3 separate regions of the Homo sapiens genome follow, and regions 2 and 3 are each linked to region 1. The links come from fine-mapping of genetic effects on gene expression. A gene starts in region 1. Each other region holds a variant in brackets. All regions are shown on one strand. Distances are between the middles of the regions. Region 1 holds the start of ANKRD24 (ankyrin repeat domain 24). Region 2 overlaps FSD1 (fibronectin type III and SPRY domain containing 1). Region 3 overlaps ANKRD24 (ankyrin repeat domain 24).

Region 1 (2,756 bases):
CGCTCCACTCTGACACCTGATCGGCTCTGAGCAGGCGGCCGCCCCAGGGGGCCGGGGATGAGCCGAGGGAGGAGACAGGCTGGCAGCGGACTGCCTGTTGGCCAACTGGCTCTGGCGGGAAGACACCCACGATCTTCCCTATCATCACTGGACTGATTTCAGTTTCTGGAAGGAGCCATGCTCTTCCTCTTTCTCAGCCTTTGCACTTGCTGTTCCCCCCACCAGGAACATTCTTTCTGTACTTCATGTCACCCCAACCGGCTCTACCTGACTCATGCACTCTTTATTTATTTATTTATTTATTTTTGAGACGGAGTTTCATGCTTGTTGCCCAGGCTGGAGTGCAATGGCGCGATCTCCGGCTCACCGCAATCTCCGCCTCCTGGGTTCAAGCAATTCTCCTGCCTCAGCCTCCCGAGCAGCTGCGATTACAGGCCACCACACCCAGCTAATTTTGTATTTTTAGTAGAGACGGGGTTTCTCCATGTTGGTCAGGGTGGTCTCGAACTCCCAATCTCAGGTGATCCACCTGCCTTGGCCTCCCAAAGTGCTGGGATTACAGGTGTGAGCCACTGCGCCCGGCTCACTCACTTTTTAGATCTTTGCTGCAACATCCCCTCCTCCAGGAAGCCCTCCCGGATGCCCCCAGCCTGGGTCAGGTGCCTCCTGTGAGCCCCCTCACTGCCCTGTGCCCTCTGCATCACCCATTGCACCCCAACCACACCATGTCACCATTACCTGGTCACATGTTTGTGTCCACCCGCAGCCACCAGGGCATAGATGGTACCACCTTTGCTCTCCAGTGTGCCCAGTACAAAGTAGGTACTCAACACATGATTCTTAAATGAGTCCTCCAGGCCACCAGCCCCATTGACCTTGAGCAGGACCTGTCCTGCAGAATGCAGAACCTCCAGTTGGATGATACTCAGATAACTTGGCCGGACGCAGTGGCTCACGCCTGTAATCCCAGCACTTTGGGAGGCCGAGGCGGTCAGATCACCTGAGGTCAGGAGTTCGGGACCAGCCTGACCAACATGGAGAAACCCCGTCTCTACTAAAAAATACAAAAATTTGCTGGGTGTGGTGGCGGGCGCCTGTAATCCCAGCTACTAGGGAGGCTGAGGCAGGAGAATCGCTTGAACCCAAGAGGCGGAGGTTGCAGTGAACCGAGATTGCGCCACTGCACTCCAGCCTGGGCAACAGAGCGAGGCTCCGTCACACACACACACACACACACACACACACACACAAATGAGATATTCAGGTAACTCTGCGTGGCATTCAAAACCCTTAGGCTGGGGTCCCTGCTGTCCGGCTCTGTCCTTACGGAATTTACTAATCCGTAAAAGGGGTTGTGGGGACATGGATAGCCTGTGTCCCGCATTTTAGAGGTGACTGGAGAACTCTCACGTAGGCGGCCGCCCCAATTTCCCGCCCGGGTCATCGGGGAGCCCCTTCCCAAGCCCCGCAAACACCTGCATGCAAAGAGGCAGGCTTCCTTCTGACAGCAGATAACATGTCGCCTGCGGCGTCAGCAAGAGGCGCATGCGCCTTGCCGTGGGAGGCCGGGTGCGCAGGACTGGAACGCGGTTCCTCCTTCTTCCCCGCCCCGCCCCGCTTCCGGCGGAAGCGGCCTCAACAAGGGAAACTTTATTGTTCCCGTGGGGCAGTCGAGGATGTCGGTGAATTACGCGGCGGGGCTGTCGCCGTACGCGGACAAGGGCAAGTGCGGCCTCCCGGAGGTGAGCGCGTCTGAGGGTCCCGAGCATCGCGCCCCAGGGCCGCGGGCTGGGAGCGGCCGGATGGCAGGGGGGCATTGTGGGAATATCAGGGGGCACTGAGGCTAGACAATGGGAGGGACTTCCCAGTGAGGAAGGGGCGGGAAGTGACGCCCCTGCGCGCCGGGGGACGCCAACACGCCCAACTCTGTGGTCACCCTGTCGGGGCTGATCGGGGAGAGAGGGGATGTAGTTCCAGGAAGAGGGGACGACAGGCGCAAAGGGAGGTGGGAATAAACACACCTGGAGAACGATTAGGCCTGGGAGGTTTCCAGAGCCGGGCCAGGACGGGGCTCAAATGCCAGGCTGGGGAGTTGGCACTTTATCCTGAGGGTGATGGGGAAGGGTTTTGCCCTGGCGAGGGGACTGGACAGAATGTGCCAGAAAGATCCCTCCAGCCACTCAGAGGGGAAGTGGAGGGATCGGCTGCCCCCTCCACGCACTGTGGGACTTTGGGGAAGTCACTTCCCTTTTGGGTCTCCATCTCCAAACTTTCTGCAAACGAGGTGAAGATGGCCCCATTCCATAAGGCTGGCCCATGCATTCTGACTCATGCATTTAATGAGCGCTGATGGTGTGCGCCCGTCCAGAAGCCCCACTCTTCACTGCTGCTGTTAGTCACTTTATTATTATTATTATTATATTTTTGAGATGGAGTTTCTCTGTCGCCCAGGCTGGAGTGCAGTGGCGCGATCTCGGCTCACTGCAACCTCCGCCTCCTAGGTTCAAGCGATTCTCCTGCCTCAGCCTCCTGAGTAGAGTAGATGAGACTACAGGCACCTGCCACCACGCCTGGCTAATTTTTGTATTTTTAGTAGAGGCGGGGTTTCACCATGTTGGCCAGTCTGCTCTTGAACTCTTGATCTCAAGTGATCCACCCACCTTGGCTTCCCAAAGTGCTGGGATTATAGGCGTGAGCCACCATACCCGGCCTGTTAGTCACTTTATTCCACCAACATTTATAGAGCACTTACTGTA
Region 2 (2,756 bases), 130 kb before region 1:
ACCCAGCTAATTTTTGTATTTTTAGTAGAGACAGGGTTTCACCATGTTGGTCAGGCTGGTCTCAATCTCGTGACTTCAAGATCCGCCCGCCTAAGCCTCCCAAAGTGCTGGGAGTACAGGTGTGAGCCACCACGCCCGGCCCAGGAGGCTTTCCCCCTTCAGACCCTACCTCCACCAGCTGGGTGGATTCCTTGGGTTTTGTTTTTTTTTTTCTTTATTTTTCTCTCTTTGTTTAGTAGAGACAGGGTCTCGCTCTGTTGCTCAGGCTGGAGTGCGGTGGTGCAGTCATGGCTCACTGCAGCCTCCAATTCTTGGGCTCAAACAATCCTCCCACCTTAGCCTCCCTTGGTAGCGGGGACCACCATGCTCAGGTAACTTTAAATTTTTTTTTTTTTTATAGATGGGCTCTTGCTTTGTTACCCAAGCTGGTCTCCAGCTCCTGGCCTCAAGCAATCCTCTTGCCTCAGCCTCCCAAAGTGCTGTATCACAGGCTTGAGCCACCATGCCTGGCCAGCTTTCAATTTCTTGTAACTGCCAAGGAGGACCCCAAATACTTGGAGGGTGAATCCAGAACGCCAGCTCTAGGAGGGAAAAGATTATTGTCTGCTTTGTTCCCTGCTCCGAGGACAGTACACAGCTATTTGGGAGGCTGAGGCAGGACTGCTTGAGGCCAGGGGTTGGAGACCAGCCTAGGGAAATGGCAGGATCCCATGTCTGGAAAAATATATTCATTATTATTATTTATTTATTTATTTATTTATTTATTTATTTTTTGAGACGGAGTCTTGCTCTGTCGCCCAGGCTGGAGTGCAGTGGCGCAATCTAGGCTCACTGCAAGCTCCGCCTCCCGAGTTCACGCCATTCTCCTGCCTCAGCCTCCTGAGCAGCTGGGACTACAGGTGCACACCGCCACGCCCGGCTAATTTTTTGTATTTTTTTAGTAGATACAGTATTTCACCGTGTTAGCCAGGATGGTCTCGATCTCCTGACCTTGTGATCGGCCCGCCTCGGCCTCCCAAAGTGCTGGGATTACAGGCGTGAGCTACCGCGCCCGGCCTATATTCATTATTATTATTTTTTGTTTTTTTGAGATGAGTTTCGCTTTTGTTGCCCAGGCTGGAGTGCAATAGCGCGATCTCGGCTCAGTGCCATCTCCACCTTCCGGGTTCAAGCAATTCTCCCGCCTTAGCCTCCTGAGTAGCTGGGATTACAGGTGCCCGATACCATGCCCGGCTAATTTTTTTGTATTTTTAGTAGAGATAGGGTTTCACCATGTTGGCCACGCTGGTCTTGAACTCCTGACCTCAGGCGATCCACCCGCTTCAGCCTCCCAAAGTGCTGGGATTACAGGCATGAGCCACCGCGCCTGGCCACTGTCTCATATTTCTGATCC[A/G]CCTCCCCAGGCTGCTTCCAGACCCCATGAGCTTTGGGGATCGTCCCCAAGGCCCCCAGTGACTGATGGCGAGACGGGAGGCTGGAAGAGGTGGCTGTTCACAGCTGGGCGGAGCTGGCACACACTGCCCTTACCTGTCAGGGTGTACTCTGTCTGCCGGATGCCCTCGATGACCATCCAGGGCTGGTCCTCCTTGAGGCGGGGCGGGCCCTCGAAGTTGGTCCGCCGGTACTCCAGCACGTAGTGGTCAATCTTGCTGTCCTCATCCGGCATGCGCCACACCAGGGTCACACAGTTATCTGCCACCAGGGACTCAGCCAGGTCGATCACGGGTGCGCTGGGCACTGACCAAGACGGAAAGGAGAGGGGGTCGGGATTCTGTGCCTGGTTCAGGGGGCAGGGGGCTTGCTGCAGGGCTGCCCAACCACATGTTGGACAATTTTGGGGGCATGGCCACAAAGGGGTTCCATGTTTGGCAGGGTGGAGACTTTTTTTTTTTTAGAGACAGAGTCTTGCTCTTGTCACCCAGGCTGGAGTGCAGTGGCACGATCTTGGCTCACTGCAACCTCCGACTCCCTGGTTCAAGCGATTCTCCTGCCTCAGCCTCCTGAGTAGCTGGGATTACAGTCGTGAGCCACCATGGCCCGGCTAATTTTTTATATTTTTAGTAGAGACAGGGTTTCTCCATGTTGGCCAGGCTGGTCTTGAACTCCTGACCTCAAGTGATCCACCCGCCTCGGCCTCCCAAAGTGCTGGGATTCCAGGCGTGAGTCACCGCGCCCGGCCATGGAGACGCTAAGGTTCCATCAGTGGGTTGGGGGAGGGCTGAGCTTTCTTGGGATTCCATCATTTACAGGCAGAATTATTCCAAAATCTCTGCCAATGAGGGATGCGGCTTTCTTTGGGGCTGCATCATAGACAGGCTGGGTTCTCAGTCCATTTCTCCTCGGGGACGTGGCCTTCTCAGGGCTCCACCCCTGGAAACAGGGTTTTCCCAGGAGCTACCATGTGGTGGGCAGGCCCTTCTCGTGGCTCTATCCAGGGAGGAGGTCTCGGGAGGACTCCACTCCCCCAACGACATGGTATTCTCAGGGCTCCACCCCTGTGGACAGAGTTTTCCCAGGACCTCACCCCCTGGTGGGTGGGGCTTTCTGATGGCTCCACCCATGGGCGGGACTTGATGAATACCCCACCCCCACAGGACGTGCTATTCTCAGGGCTCCACCCCTGGGGACAGGATTTTCCCACCTGGTGAGTTTGACCTTCTCATGGCTCCACCCCAGGGCGGGGCCTCATGAGGACTCAACCAACCCCACAGGACATGGTATTCTCACAGTTCCACCCCTGGGTACAGAGTTTTCCC
Region 3 (2,756 bases), 27 kb before region 1:
GTGGTTGTTGTTGTTGAGATGGAGTCTTGCTCTGTCACCCAGGCTGGAGTGCAGTGGTGTGATCTTGGCTCACTGCAACCTCTGCCTCCCGGGTTCAAGCAATTCTCCTGCCTCAGCCTCCCAAGTAGCTGGAATTACAGGCCCCTGCCACCATGCCCAGCTAATTTTTTTTTTGTATTTTTAGTAGAGACAGGGTTTCACTATGTTGGCCAGGCTGGTCTCGAACTCCTGACCTCAAGTGATCTGCCCACCTCAACCTCCCAAAGTGCTGGGATTACAGGTGTGAGCCACCGTGCCCAGCCAGAAAGTTTTTACTGGGTGCCTCTTATGGGGCAGACCTGGTTTTGGCCATTCATTCATACACTCACTTGAATATTCACTCACCCAATCAATATTGACGACGCCCATACTGTGACCCAGGCACCATCAGCCATGCCTGCCCTCGCAGGCTCACAGTCAAATGGGTGGACACACATAAAACAGATGCATGCCCAATAGCAGCAAGTGATGCAAATGGAGATAAAGAGGCCGGGTGCGGTGGCTCACACCTGCAATCCCAGCACTTTAGGAGGCCGCGGCGGGAGGATCACCTGAGGTCAGGAGTTAGAGACCAGCCTGGCCAATGTGCTGAAACCCCGTCTCTACTAAAAATACAAAACTAGCTGGATGTGGTGGTGGGCGCCTGTAATCCCAGCTGCTTGGGAGACTGAGGCAGGAGAATCGCTTGAACCCGGGAGGCGGAGGTGGCAATAAGCCGAGATCGTACCATTGCATTCTAGCCTGGGCAACAAGAGCGAGACTCCGTCTCAAAAACAAAACAAAACCAAAAATAAATAAAAAAAAAATAAAGTGAACTAGCGAGTTGGCCGGGGGGGTGGTGGGGGGTGATGTTACAATTTTGAAGAAAGTGGGCATGGGAAGTGGGCATGGGAAGTGGGCATGGGAAGTGTCTTTGGCGAGGAGCCTACTGCATAAAGTAGGTGAGGTAAAGAGCTGTGGGGCCATCTGGGGCTAGAGCATTCCAGGCAGAGGACACAGGTGGTGCAAAGGCCCTGAGGCAGGACTGCGCTAGAGCATTCCAGGCAGAGGACACTGGTGGTGCAAAGGCCCTGAGGCAGGACTGCGCCTGGCGAGTTGGAGGAACAGCGAGGAGGCCCAGGTGGCTGCAGCAGGGTGGGGAGGGAGAGAGATGGAGGAGGGAAGGTGGGAGAAAAGTAGGGGGATCTTCATGCCTGCATTGACCCCACCCAGGCTGGCCCACGCCCAAATCTCCGAGGCCTCCTAACCTCCTGCTGCCTC[C/T]GTTCCTTGTGCTGTTCCAGGCCCCGGATCTTCTGCAGGAGGCGGCCCCTCTCCTGCCGCAGCCTCACGATCTCCTCATAGGCATCTCGATCATCCTGTTCCCCTCCCCACCACGGCCTTTAGATGGGGCCTAAGGTTGCCCCATCCCAGGTCTCAGCCAGAGCCCCTCCCCGTGCCTGGGGGCTCCCCATGCCTCCTCCCGTGCCCAGAGCATCTCTCACCGGCATGGGAATGCTGGCGGGAGGTGGAGGCGCCTTCCGCTTCTTGGGGGCCCCCTGCTTTCCATGGCTGGACATAGAGTTCTGGGAAGGGAGGGGAGAGAGAGTGAAGGGGGCCGATCGGGGGGCCATGCCAGCCTCCCCCACAGTAAACCAACCCAGCCAGCCCCAGCCATGGCCTGACTTCCTGAGAACATGGAACCAGCAGCCCCTGCCTCCTGCCGCTTACTTATCCCAGCAAAGCGCAGACAAGACCAACTCCCTGTAAGTTCCAGATCTTACTCTTTACTCTCTGCTCCTCTCTGTCTCTCAGTTCTTTCCCCAGCTAGACCACATTGCCCACACGTTTTCACTCCTCTGTGGAACAGAGATGCTTTAAAACTGGGAGAGGGGCCAGCGCGGTGGCTCACACCTGTAATCCCAGCACTTTGGGAGGCCAAGGTGGGTGATCACTTGAGGTCAGGAGTTCGAGAGCAGCCTGGACAACACAGAGTGAAACCCCGACCCTACTAAAAATACAAAAAATTAGCTGGGCATGGTGGCGCACGCCTGTAGTCCCAGCTACTAGGGAAACTGAGGCAGGAGAATCACTTGAACCTGGGAGGCAGAGGTTGCAGTGAGCCAAGATCACGCCATTGCACTCCAGCCTGGGTGACAGGGCGAGACTCCATCTCTCAAAAAATAAACAAAACAAACAAACAACAACAACAACAAAAAAAAAAAACTAGGAGAGGGGTCGCGCTCAGTGGCTCATGCCTGTAATCCCAGCACTTTGGGAGGCCGAGGCGGGTGGGTCACTTGAGGCCAGGAGTTTGAGACCAGCCTGGCCAACAGGGTGAAACCCCATCTCTACTAAAAATACAAAAATTAGCCAGTTGTGGTGGGTGCCTGTAATCCCAGCTACTAGGGAGGCTGAGGCAGGAGAATCGCTTGAACCCAGGGGGTGAAGGTTGCAGTGAGCCAAGATCGAGCCACTGTACTCCAGCCTGGGCGACAGAGTGAGACTCCACCTCGGGGAAAAAAAACACAAAAAAACTGAAAGAGGGGAAGAGGCCAGATCTGCTTCCTTCCCCGAAGACACCAACCCTCAACAACCTCAGTCCCCACTGCCCTCCCACCCCAGCCCCATAATTTGGCCCCATCCAGTATTCTCACCCAGTTCTGGGAGTTAGGCTGAGCACACTGCCGCCACTTGGTGGCAGCATACCCTGAAGGTAGCATTCTTTCCAAACAGGTTTT

Evidence for each region.
Region 2: its variant is fine-mapped to the expression of ANKRD24 in atrial appendage (GTEx, PIP 0.99). The same link has a PIP of 0.9 or more in gastroesophageal junction.
Region 3: its variant is fine-mapped to the expression of ANKRD24 in transverse colon (GTEx, PIP above 0.99).

What each region holds. Positions count from the first base shown.
Region 1 is chr19:4,181,460-4,184,215 of GRCh38, reverse strand. It overlaps ANKRD24 (ankyrin repeat domain 24), which reads right to left and starts at 1,527. Exons shown (of 22, transcript NM_001393985.1): 1 at 1,476-1,527. SIRT6 (sirtuin 6) reads left to right here and starts at 1,653. Exons shown (of 8, transcript NM_016539.4): 1 at 1,653-1,742. The coding sequence starts at 1,677. RefSeq lists enhancers at 1,470-1,519, 1,590-1,679.
Region 2 is chr19:4,310,823-4,313,578 of GRCh38, reverse strand. It overlaps FSD1 (fibronectin type III and SPRY domain containing 1), which reads right to left. Exons shown (of 13, transcript NM_024333.3): 7 at 1,528-1,737. Among named protein-coding and RNA genes, the nearest start is that of FSD1, 7.6 kb to the right of the region's middle. The variant A/G (reference allele first, on the strand shown) is at 1,394.
Region 3 is chr19:4,208,903-4,211,658 of GRCh38, reverse strand. It overlaps ANKRD24 (ankyrin repeat domain 24), which reads right to left. Exons shown (of 22, transcript NM_001393985.1): 12 at 1,521-1,601; 13 at 1,287-1,394. Among named protein-coding and RNA genes, the nearest start is that of EBI3, 19 kb to the left of the region's middle. The variant C/T (reference allele first, on the strand shown) is at 1,300.